Linked DNA regions of Homo sapiens: region 2 is linked to region 1. The links come from fine-mapping of genetic effects on gene expression. Tissue or cell type: whole blood. Region 1 holds a variant in brackets; the other region holds the start of a gene. All regions are shown on one strand. Distances are from middle to middle.

Region 1 (5,147 bases):
TAGAGAAGCCATATTTTCCCTAATTCATGACAAAGCCACCATATTGGCTTGGCTGCAACTGGCATCCTCAATACTTAGAATACTTAGCACATGGTAGATACTCAATAAATATCTGCTGAATACATTTCCCCAACATTCTGATGACAAAAATGTCATACAGAAAAGTTGAAACAATAGTACAATGAAGATCTATAGACCCCTATTTAGTTGAATAAATGTTAACATTTGCTATATTTGCTGTGTGTTTATGTGTTTACTTTTCTTGCTGAATCATTTGAAAGGTAGTTGCAATTATCATGACACTTGACCCATAAATATTTCAGCAGGCATCCCTTGAGAATTAGAACATTCTCTACATAACTGCAATACCATGATCACAACTAATAATAATTAATCATTATTTCCTAATATCACCTAATATCCAATTGTAGAAGTTGCTGGTGGTGCTCTACTCACACATCCTTGGCCTACCCAGAAGTTACCTGCAAAGAGTTCCCATATAGCCAGTGACTTCCTGAGCATCTTTTCCTGGACATGTTGGCCAGCTTGAGAGAGTACACTTTGCCCTCACAGGGCAGGCTGAAAGTGCCAGAGAGTCAACACCTTGAGAGTGTCCCTCAGCCGGAGATGGAGAGAAGTTGCTTCCTTCCCTATCAGTAGTTGATTCTGAGGTATGCTGCACAGAATACAACTTGTCCAAAGCTCCAGGGATATAGTTGCTCACGGTAGTAATCTTTAACACATTCTTTACTAGTTTCCTCCCTTCCCTATCTTACTTCCTTACTATGCTTCCTGAGATCACTTTTTTTTTTTTTTTTTTTTGAGGAAGGGTCTCACTCTCTCGCCCAGATTGGAATGCAGTGGTCCAATCTTGGCTCAACACAACCTCCACCTCCCAGCCTCAAGGGATTCTTCCACCTCAGCCTCCCAAGTAGCTGGGATTACAGGCGCCCGCCACCATGCCTGGCTAATTTTTCTATTTTTAGTAGAGACGGGGTTTCATCACATTGGCCAGGCTGGTCTCGAACTCCTGACCTCAAATGATCCACCCTCCTCGGCCTCCCAAAGTGCTGGGATTAAGGGAGTGAGCCACTCACCGTGCCCGGCCGAGATCACCTTTAAATAAACTATTGGCACTCAAAGCTCTGTCTCAGGGTCTATTTTGGAGGCACCAAGAACCAAAACATCACTCCATTGCTAAATTCATTTTAAAATGACAATCTTGGATCCCTGGAGAGGCAAACTCAAAACCTGTTTGGGTGGTGCTTGCAACCCAGCCAACAGGAGCTGCTCTTAGCTCTGATTTTTGCTTGAACAATGCTATAGTGAGGTTGTGTTGATTTAGGATGCCCTGCTCAGCCTATATTAATAATAATAGTAATAAGAGCTACTGTTTACCAAGAGCTTACTGTGCGGCAGATTCACATGCTTCATTTCATTTAATCCTCACAGTGACTCCGTAGGGAGGGTACTATTACTATTTCCATTGTATTGATGAAGATCCTGAGGCTCATGGAGGTTAAATAACTTTTCAAAGTTACATAGCTAGTAAGAGGCAGATTGCTGGTGTGCTTCAGCAGTGTGTTAAAATGTGTAGATAACTATAAATATTCTTCTGTTATATTTTTGTGTAAATGGGAACAATAGTACTTGGCAGATAAAATTTGCATCGTTAACAATACCATAAACATAGTGTAATGCAAGGATCTCCCAATCAGGTGAGAGCCTCAAGAGGATAAAACTGTTCCCTAGGCCAAGGTGGGCAGATTGCTTAAGGCCGGGAGTTAGAGACCAGCCTAGGAAACATGGCGAAATTTCATCTCTACCAAAAATATATATATTAACAAAGTTTAGCTGGGCATGGTGACTCACGCCAGTAGTCCTAGCTCCTTGGGAGGCTGGGAGCAGAGGTTCAGTCAGCCACAATTGTGCCATTGCATTCCAATCTGGGTGACAGAGTGAAACCCTGCCTCAAAAAACAAAACAAACAACAACAACAAAAAAACGGCTCCCTGCCATGCCTGGCTTGGTACAGCTTATGCACTGGGCTTGGGTTACTAGTGGTAACTAAGACTTTTCCAGCATTATTTAAGTTGTGTAGAATCTTCCAATGTTTTGACCTCTGTTAAAGTCAAACTTCTCTTTGGACTCGTCCCTTCACAATCCCCAGGCTAGATGATCAAAACGCAGCCATCTTACTTAAATATGACAATATTCAGTGAGATGCGCTACAGATTTTTGCACAAGTTCAAGCTTTCTTGGAACAACACATCCCTGTTAGTAATATCCGGCCCCACCTAGTAACCGAGGTAGACATAGAAACTTAGATCTTAAGAAGATGTCTTTCCCAATTACTATCTTCTCTAAGACTCCATAAAGAAAAACAGACTTTGAACCCAAGTTATCTTATTTATTTGACCCTGCTGTCATAAAGCGTTCAAATTCAAGTATTATAAAGGATTGTAACAGGGAAAGCATTTAGGGTTTTCAGGCAGAGGAACAGTTGGCCAAGGAAGTCAGCTTCTCAGAGCTCAAGAGGTAAGTGGTAAGACTGTCTTATATAGAAAGTAGAGAGTCATACAGATTAAAAACAAGCCAAGTGAGGGGAATACATTTTGAAAAGTTGCTGTCTCGGTGGAGTGGAGGGAAAGAGAAGACATAGATTTGTCCCCTTAATAGGGCTGGGTGAGGTCTGGCAAGAAGCCTGCACTCTCAGTTTTTATTGAGTACTTGTAGTGCAGAGCGCTTGAGAAAACTCTACTATTGACCACATTCTGCAGTAATCACTGTTACAACACTGTGATAGAAATCTTTTTGGCAAATATTTAAAATTACAAAAGAATCAATATTAGTAGTAATTGCATCTTACGAAAAGATTGATGCAGGCTTGTCTGCCAGAAAGGGTGAGCCTGGCATGAATGAAACTTACTCCTGTCAGGGCACGCCTGGGACAGGGGAGGAGTAGAGTAGGTATAGGTATATTTCAGCTCTTGTAAATTAATACTGGTGTTAAGGGGAGAGAACTCCCAGTGGCCAGGGACTGGAAAAGATTAACAGCAGCTTTTTTT[T/A]ATTTTTTTATTTTTTATTTTTATTTTTTGAGACCGAGCCTCACTCTGTCGCCCAGGCTGGAGTGCAGTGGCATAATCTTGGCTCACTGCAACCTCCACCTCCCAGGTTCAAGCAATTCTCCTGCCTCAGCCTCCCGAGTAGCTGGGATTACAGGCGCTCGCCACCATGCCTGGCTAATTTTTTTTTTTTTTTTTTGCATTTTTAGTAGAGATGGGGTTTCACTATGTTGGTCAGGCTAGTCTCAAACTCCTGACCTCAGGTAATCCACCTGCCTCAGCTCCTAAAGTGCTGGGATTACAGGCATGAGCCACTGCACCCAGCCTAACAGCAGCTTCTTAAAGGAAAAGAATATTAATCTAGGCAGTAGATTGGGTAGTAGGGTGGTTGAGAGTAGGGTGGTTAAGAGCATGGTCTTGGGAGTCTGGGTTCAAATCCCGACCTTGACATTTACTGTCTGTGGGATCTCAGGCAAATTACATAGTCTCTTTAAATCTATAGAAACGACCTCAGGAGGGTTGTTAGGAGGCTTAATTGTGACTGAAATGATGTATGTAAAGTGTTTAGCACAGTCCCTGTTGCGCAGAAAGTTTTCCGTATGTGGTTCGCTATATTTATAGTAGTACTCTTGAAAGGAAGTAATGAATATATGTTTTTTTCCCAGATGGAAATGGAGAATATCTTAGGGAGAGGGAGAGTTGAAGCAAAAGCAAGAAGGGAGAAAGGACACCTTTATTATTTATTATTTTTAGTCCATTGGGTCAAGGGGAAGAGAGAGAGAGAATAGTGGGAGAAAGACAAGATTAACATGGTTTAAACTAGAGGCCATGTTTCAATTGAGGCTTTTCTACGTACACACCATTTGAATCTATGGGATTTGGAGTAGTCTCAAAAACTCTCTATTATCAGAGAACATCTTTACAAAAATGACCCAAGAAAAACTTTCAGAACAAGAATTACTTTGTTCAGTAGGGACTGTCTGAGAATGAGACAAGTTTCATTCTGCTAAAATGAAATTCTATCAGTTTCTCTAGGGAAGACTGGTTTCATCTTCCCCAGGGCACCCTGACGCTGCTCTATCTGTCATAGCCTATTTCCTGTGGTTTTATGTTGCTTTTAAAAAAAATTTCTTACTACTAAATGTACTTTGAACTTAGTCAGACAGGGTTGTTTAATTAAAAGCTAGAAGTAGTACCGTTATAGCTGGGATGATTCATCTGGGACTTCACTTTAAATGCATAATAGACAGAAGGAAGGTTCACGAACTCATTGCAGACCAAAGTACAAAACCAACTGCACTATTTTTCCCTTAGTAGATCTGAGTTTAACTCATTAAAGATGGCATGGAAGAGCAGTGTCATAATGCAAATGGGAAGATTTCTTCTCTTAGTAATTTTATTTCTGCCACGTGAGATGACAAGTAAGTTAAAGTTCTTTTTGGCCTCTTTTTAGATAAAGAAAAATTTCCGATTAAGAAAAGTGATCAATGGGCATTGGATATATCCTTAAATTCCAAATTGGAATGACTACACAGTTAGCATGGCTCACAGTACAGGAGTCAACTAACAATAAAAAATCAAATGGAGGCCAGGCGGGTGGCTCACGCCTGTAATCCCAACACTTTGGGAGGCCGAGGCAGGTGAATCATGAGGTCAGGAGATCGAGACCATCCTGGCTAACACGGTGAAACCCCATCTCTACTAAAAATACAAAAAATTAGCCTGGTGTGCTGGCAGGCGCCTGTAGTTCCAGCTACTCGGGTGGCTGAGGCAGGAGAATGGCGTGAACCCAGGAGGTGGAGCTTGCAGTGAGTGAGCCGAGATTACGTCACTGTACTCCAGCCTGGGCGACAGGGCGAGACTCCGTCTCAAAAAAAAAAAAAAAAAAATCAAATGGAAAAATATTGTTTTTAGGGTTTTATTATTACAAGACAAGGTGAAGTATTCTATTCTCTCCAGAGCCACCACCAGAATCCTCCTACATTTTAATGCATTTTATTACTAATGTTACCCCAAATAATCATCTGTTTATCTGAACATACCATTTCACATGAAAATCTTTCCAGCATTTGCTCTCCTACC
Region 2 (5,147 bases), 42 kb after region 1:
AGCTTTTAATTCAATTCACTGTCCTCTCCTTGCCTTCCTGGGATTCCAGGACATAACTCCCCGGGTCTCCTACTTCGCTGACTGATCTTTCTATTTCTGCTGGCTCCTCTGTCTTCACCCATACTTTAAACATTATCATTTTCAGAGCTAATACTACTCCCATATGGCATCCTTATAAGAAGTTGTGAAAGGGGCCAGGCGTGGTGGCTCATGCCTTTAATTCCAGCACTTTGGGAGGCCGAGGTGGGCAGATCACGAGGTCAGGGGTTCAAGACCGGCCTGGCCAACATGGTGAAACCCCGTCTCTCCTAAAAATACAAAAATTAGCCGGGTATGGTGGTGCGTGCCTGTAATCCCAGCTACTCAGGATGCTGAGGCAGGCAAATTGCTTGAACCCAGGAGGTGGAGGTTGCAGTGAGCCGAGATTATGCCACTGCACCCCAGCCTGGGTGACAGAGTGAGACTCATCTCAAAAAAAAAAAAAAAGTAGTGAAAGGTACATCATACTCTGTGCACAGCCTGGGCCAGGGTGCATGGCTTGGCAAGCAGAGCCTGGACTGCATTTTAGTCCCTACTCACCACACTCAGCCTGGTGCCCTTGTGCCATGAACACCCTGTGCAACTGCACATTGCAGCCCAGGGCACTATCTGTGGTCTTCATCTCTTTATTGCTCTATCCTCTTTCCCTCTGTAACCCTGCTGACTTTCATTGTTCCACCTCGAACCTATGTGTCTCATCTAATCTCTAGACATCTTTTCATCTACGTCCTGAACTTCTCTTCCTGGGTGTCCTGTGGGGCATCCTAATTTTGCTATGGCCCAAACTCAGTTCAGATCTGCACACTTGCAAATATGCAAATATGCCTATTTTTCTGTATGCCCTCTCTTGGTTAATGACACCACCTTCCATCTTCTTATTCCGCTGAAAACTTCAAGATTATCAATGCCTCTTCCCTTTCCGCAATGTAAGGCTTTTGTCCTCTCCCAAGTTCACTACTGGAAGAACCTTCTAACCAGTTTCCCTATCTCCAGAGCCCCTCCCCTCCAAATTACTCTCCCCACTGCCACCAGGTTTCTTTTTTTACACAGACTTGAGCATATTTTTCCTTTGTTTCAAAACCCATTTTGTCTTCTAATTAACCATAAGATAAAGTCCAGATGCTCAGGCATTGAACATAAAACCCTTTATATCTTGGCCCAAACCTACAAAACTTTTCCAGTCCTACACCTTGCCTCTGCTCCCAAAACATGCCTTGCTCTTAGCCACATCCGATTATGATGCACCCTTTCTTGAACATGATTTTATTCACTGCGCCTTCGCTGGTGCCTTGAATGCCCTTCTCCTGTTCTTTGACTTGTAAAAATCTCATCCACTCTTCAAGATCATGCTCTCTTGTCACTTCTATTTTCAGGCACCCTTTGGCCCTAATTGACAGTGCTCTCCTCATTGCTTCTACAGTCTACAGCACTATTGGTATGCTACTACAGATAGTCTAAAAGTTGTTTTGCATCTCTTTCCTACTACATTGAGTTTCTTAACGGCAAGATTAAGCTTTGTTCGTCTCTATGTCATCAGCAGTTTGTCCAGTGCCTAGTACATGTTAGATACTGAATAAAAATTTATGACTTGAATTGGGCAGGATGCTTGAACATCATTTTGTGAAAGGACCAGTGATTTCTTTCTGTATAATTTTCAGCCTCTTCTTTTTCAGATATTGAAAGAACCTCAGAATAGGATGGTTGATGGGCCCACTTAAGATAGTTGCTATGTTATAGCCCCAATTTTTAGCCGAGTCTCTCTAGGGACATAGAAACCGTGCTTTCTCAAATGACTGATTGGTGCCTGAGTATGGATTTTTCCAGATATCAGAGTTCCTTAGAACTGCGATGATTTTCAATCTAAGAAGACCTAGATTCTAGGTTACACACACACACACTCAACCTCATCGTTTTGAATAGCAGATACAGGGTTTCAGTGTTTTTGTTTTACTCTCTGTGGGTTCTATCCCAGCATCTTACTAAGGGCTGAGATTTCAGGGCATGAAACACGGAATCAACAAAAACAAGGTTTTTACAATCTCAAAACTTTGGGAAACTGTTGAGTTATCTTGAAAGCCTAGAGGGGGAGCATCAGTTAGTTTTGTAGAGAACTCGGCGAAACAATATTGATGCATACGGCTAGCCTCTGTCATCCTCCTGAGTTAAACCCAACGGGACATGCTGGACTATACAGGAGCCACTCGTGGACTCCGTGAAGACCAGATGGGTAGTGTTCTTGAAATGAGCAGATGTCTATTTGTAGAACTCTGGTAGTAGCTTTGGAGTGGGTGGGGAAGAGCTTGGTTCCCATTCCCCCTCAAAGACAATTATTTGCTTCTGATGAGAATCCAAGCAACAAGTTGCCATTGAGAATGCAGTGATTGGTCAGCAAACGAAGCCTATAGGAAGAGCCTTCGGGTGCATTCCTTGTGACATATCGACCCGTCCTAAGCCCGACGCTTAATTATGGGACCTCTCAGCTCCTCCCTCCCGCCTCGAGCTCCCTTTTGGCTTCTCACAAGGCTTCCTGGGGACGATTCCCCGATGCTAGAGTACTGGGGGTCTGGGCCCACAGGGAACCCGTCAGCCTCCCTCCTTGGAGCGGGCCTGATCCCGGGAGGGCGCCCGCGCGGCCCGGAGGCGGGAACCTAGGGGGAGAAGGCGCCGGCGCCGCCCTGGCGCGCAGACCATCTGTGCGGTCCTGCGCGGGGGCAGGCGCGGCCTCAGCCCCCGGGCGCTGGCGGACCCAGCGCGTCAGCTAGGCCGCCCCCGTCGGCCCTCCCCCGGGCGGGGCCAGCCCCGACGGCGCTGACTCAGCAACGCGAGGGGGGAGTTTTGTCCCTCCGCGGACCCCGTTTCTCCCAGCCTCAGCCTCCCCGCCGCCGCCGCCGCCGCCGCCGCCGAGCCGGTTTCCTTTTTCCGGCGCTCCGGGTGCGAGAGACAGGTCGGGCCCCCTAGGCAGCGAGCCGCAGCGCAATCCCGGCGCTCGCCCAAGGACCCTGGAAGCTACCGTTACCCCGCCGGGCAGCGTGGGCGCCATGAGCAGCTCGGGTGAGGTGCCGCCGTCCCCCGCCGCGGTCCTCTGGAGGAGCTCCGCGGTCCCCGTGAGGCCCGGCGGCGGGGAAGGCCGGGGGCTGGGACCCTTGGCGATGGCGGGGAGGGAGCTTTCGGGGCAGGCTGGATCGGCCTGGAGGGAGACAGCTCCTTGGAGGAGGATGCCGCTTATGGGTTTCCCCGCTGCAGCGGGCACCCCAGGATGCGCTTACGAAGTTAGATTCGGGACGCGGGAGCCCCAGATCAGCCCTTTCCCCCTCTTTTTGCGTTAAAATCCTGTTTGGTCTCCCAACAGGACTGAATTCGGAGAAGGTAGCTGCTCTGATACAGAAACTGAATTCCGACCCCCAGTTCGTACTTGCCCAGAATGTCGGGACCACCCACGACCTGCTGGACATCTGTCTGAAGCGGGCCACGGTGCAGCGCGCGCAGCATGTGTTCCAGCACGCCGTGCCCCAGGAGGGCAAGCCAATCACCAACCAGAAGAGCTCAGGTGTGGGCTTCCACTTCTCCCATACGTTCCTTGACCTTCCTGACAGCGTCCCATTTTGGTGTCTTATTTAAGAGTGGTCTTAAATTCGTACTGAAAGAACTGGTCGTAAATTCGTAAAGAATGAGGCACAGGTACAGGCAGGTCTAAGAACATTACCCATGTGGTTTGTTTTGCTGTTCTGTGGCTTGTTAGTACATGCGGTTAGAGTACAAAAGTGACATGTCCATGAGTATACGTTTGAGTGTAATTGACTATATTATGTTCCAATGCTGTGTGGTTTGTAGCCCGTGTCTTGGAGATGTATGGTCTTGGTCACAAAACAGAACATGTGAAAATGTTCATATCTTTGGAGGACTCCCCAGAAATGCCCTGAAGGCCCTATACTATGAAATAGAAAAGATACAATGTAATTACATTAAAATGTCATCAGATGTTACTTTTAAATATGCTTCTTGGTTACAACTGAAGCTAATGTGCTGATGGGCTCAGTTCCCACCAGTAGATCAGTTTGTAATACAGAAAAAAGTTCTGTTCTCATGCCTTGCTGGTCAAGAAGTCTCGTTTTGCTATCTGCTTTCTAGCACCACTCTCAGAAAAAACAGGTATAGTGAAAGATTGGATATCCAGCAATCTAAATAAGGAGCACATTCTCACAACAAAATTGTACTAAACGGATTTTTTAAAGTCTTTCTATACTTAAAAACGACCCCCCAGTCTATCTATACGGACAGGAAGCACATCAGTGCTTGTTTAGAGTCGGTTAGAACTCACAAAGCACACATTTAACGTGAGTACATTTTATTGTATGTACATTATACCTGAATAAAGTTGATTTTTTAAATGTTAAGGAAAAAGTCAAGACCTTACAATAATTAATGTTTTGCTTTAGAAGAAAGTGCTTGGAGTGGTGTGGGCTCTCAGGCTACAGATGATCCAGTTAGTAATGTCACAGTGGTCCTACATAGTTTAGATTGCAGTGACCCGTTAGGGAACAGGTCAGGTCTTACACATTTTGCAGTGTCACTTTTACATACAAAAGATCCAAATAGCATGTGAGTTGTGTAGTTTATTTTCATGCAGTTTTCACATCACCAGTGCATCCAGATCCCCTCTACTAGAAATATATAGCATATAGAAGAGAGGTGACATACAGGTAAATGTAAGGTAAAGACGAACTAATAGGCACTAGTGACTTTCATAAAACACTATAGTTAACTAGAGTTTTCTTCTTGTTACAAAATTATTTTTGTTTAATGTAGAATATTTGTAAATACCAAGTAAATATTTTTCTTGTATATTTGTCAAGTTTTGTGTGTGTGTGTGTGTTTAATAGTGTTTAATATGCATTGATACCTTATACATTGTTATGTAAGCTACCTATCTTTTTCACTTACCAATATATTATAAACATATTTTCATATTAGTAAAAAGGTTATACCCAATACAAGTCAAAGTTTTTCCCTCAGAATTTTCCCTCAGAAAAGAGATAATTTCCCTGTATTTAAGACCTTAAAAGACTTTTCTAATGGCGCTCTCAGTTAATTTATTTTGAAGTAGAGTA

The links. PIP is the estimated chance that this variant, and not a neighbour inherited with it, causes the effect.
Region 2: it holds the start of BLMH, and the variant in region 1 is fine-mapped to the expression of BLMH in whole blood (TOPMed, PIP above 0.99).

What each region holds. Positions count from the first base shown.
Region 1 is chr17:30,331,391-30,336,537 of GRCh38, reverse strand. It overlaps TMIGD1 (transmembrane and immunoglobulin domain containing 1), which reads left to right and starts at 2,481. Exons shown (of 7, transcript NM_206832.3): 1 at 2,481-2,538; 2 at 4,380-4,486. The coding sequence starts at 4,405. The variant T/A (reference allele first, on the strand shown) is at 3,069.
Region 2 is chr17:30,289,750-30,294,896 of GRCh38, reverse strand. BLMH (bleomycin hydrolase) reads left to right here and starts at 2,953. Exons shown (of 12, transcript NM_000386.4): 1 at 2,953-3,090; 2 at 3,389-3,586. The coding sequence starts at 3,078. It overlaps LOC124903971 (a long non-coding RNA gene), which reads right to left and starts at 207. Exons shown (of 2, transcript XR_007065700.1): 1 at 1-207. RefSeq lists silencers at 2,543-2,952, 3,153-3,222 and an enhancer at 3,673-3,732.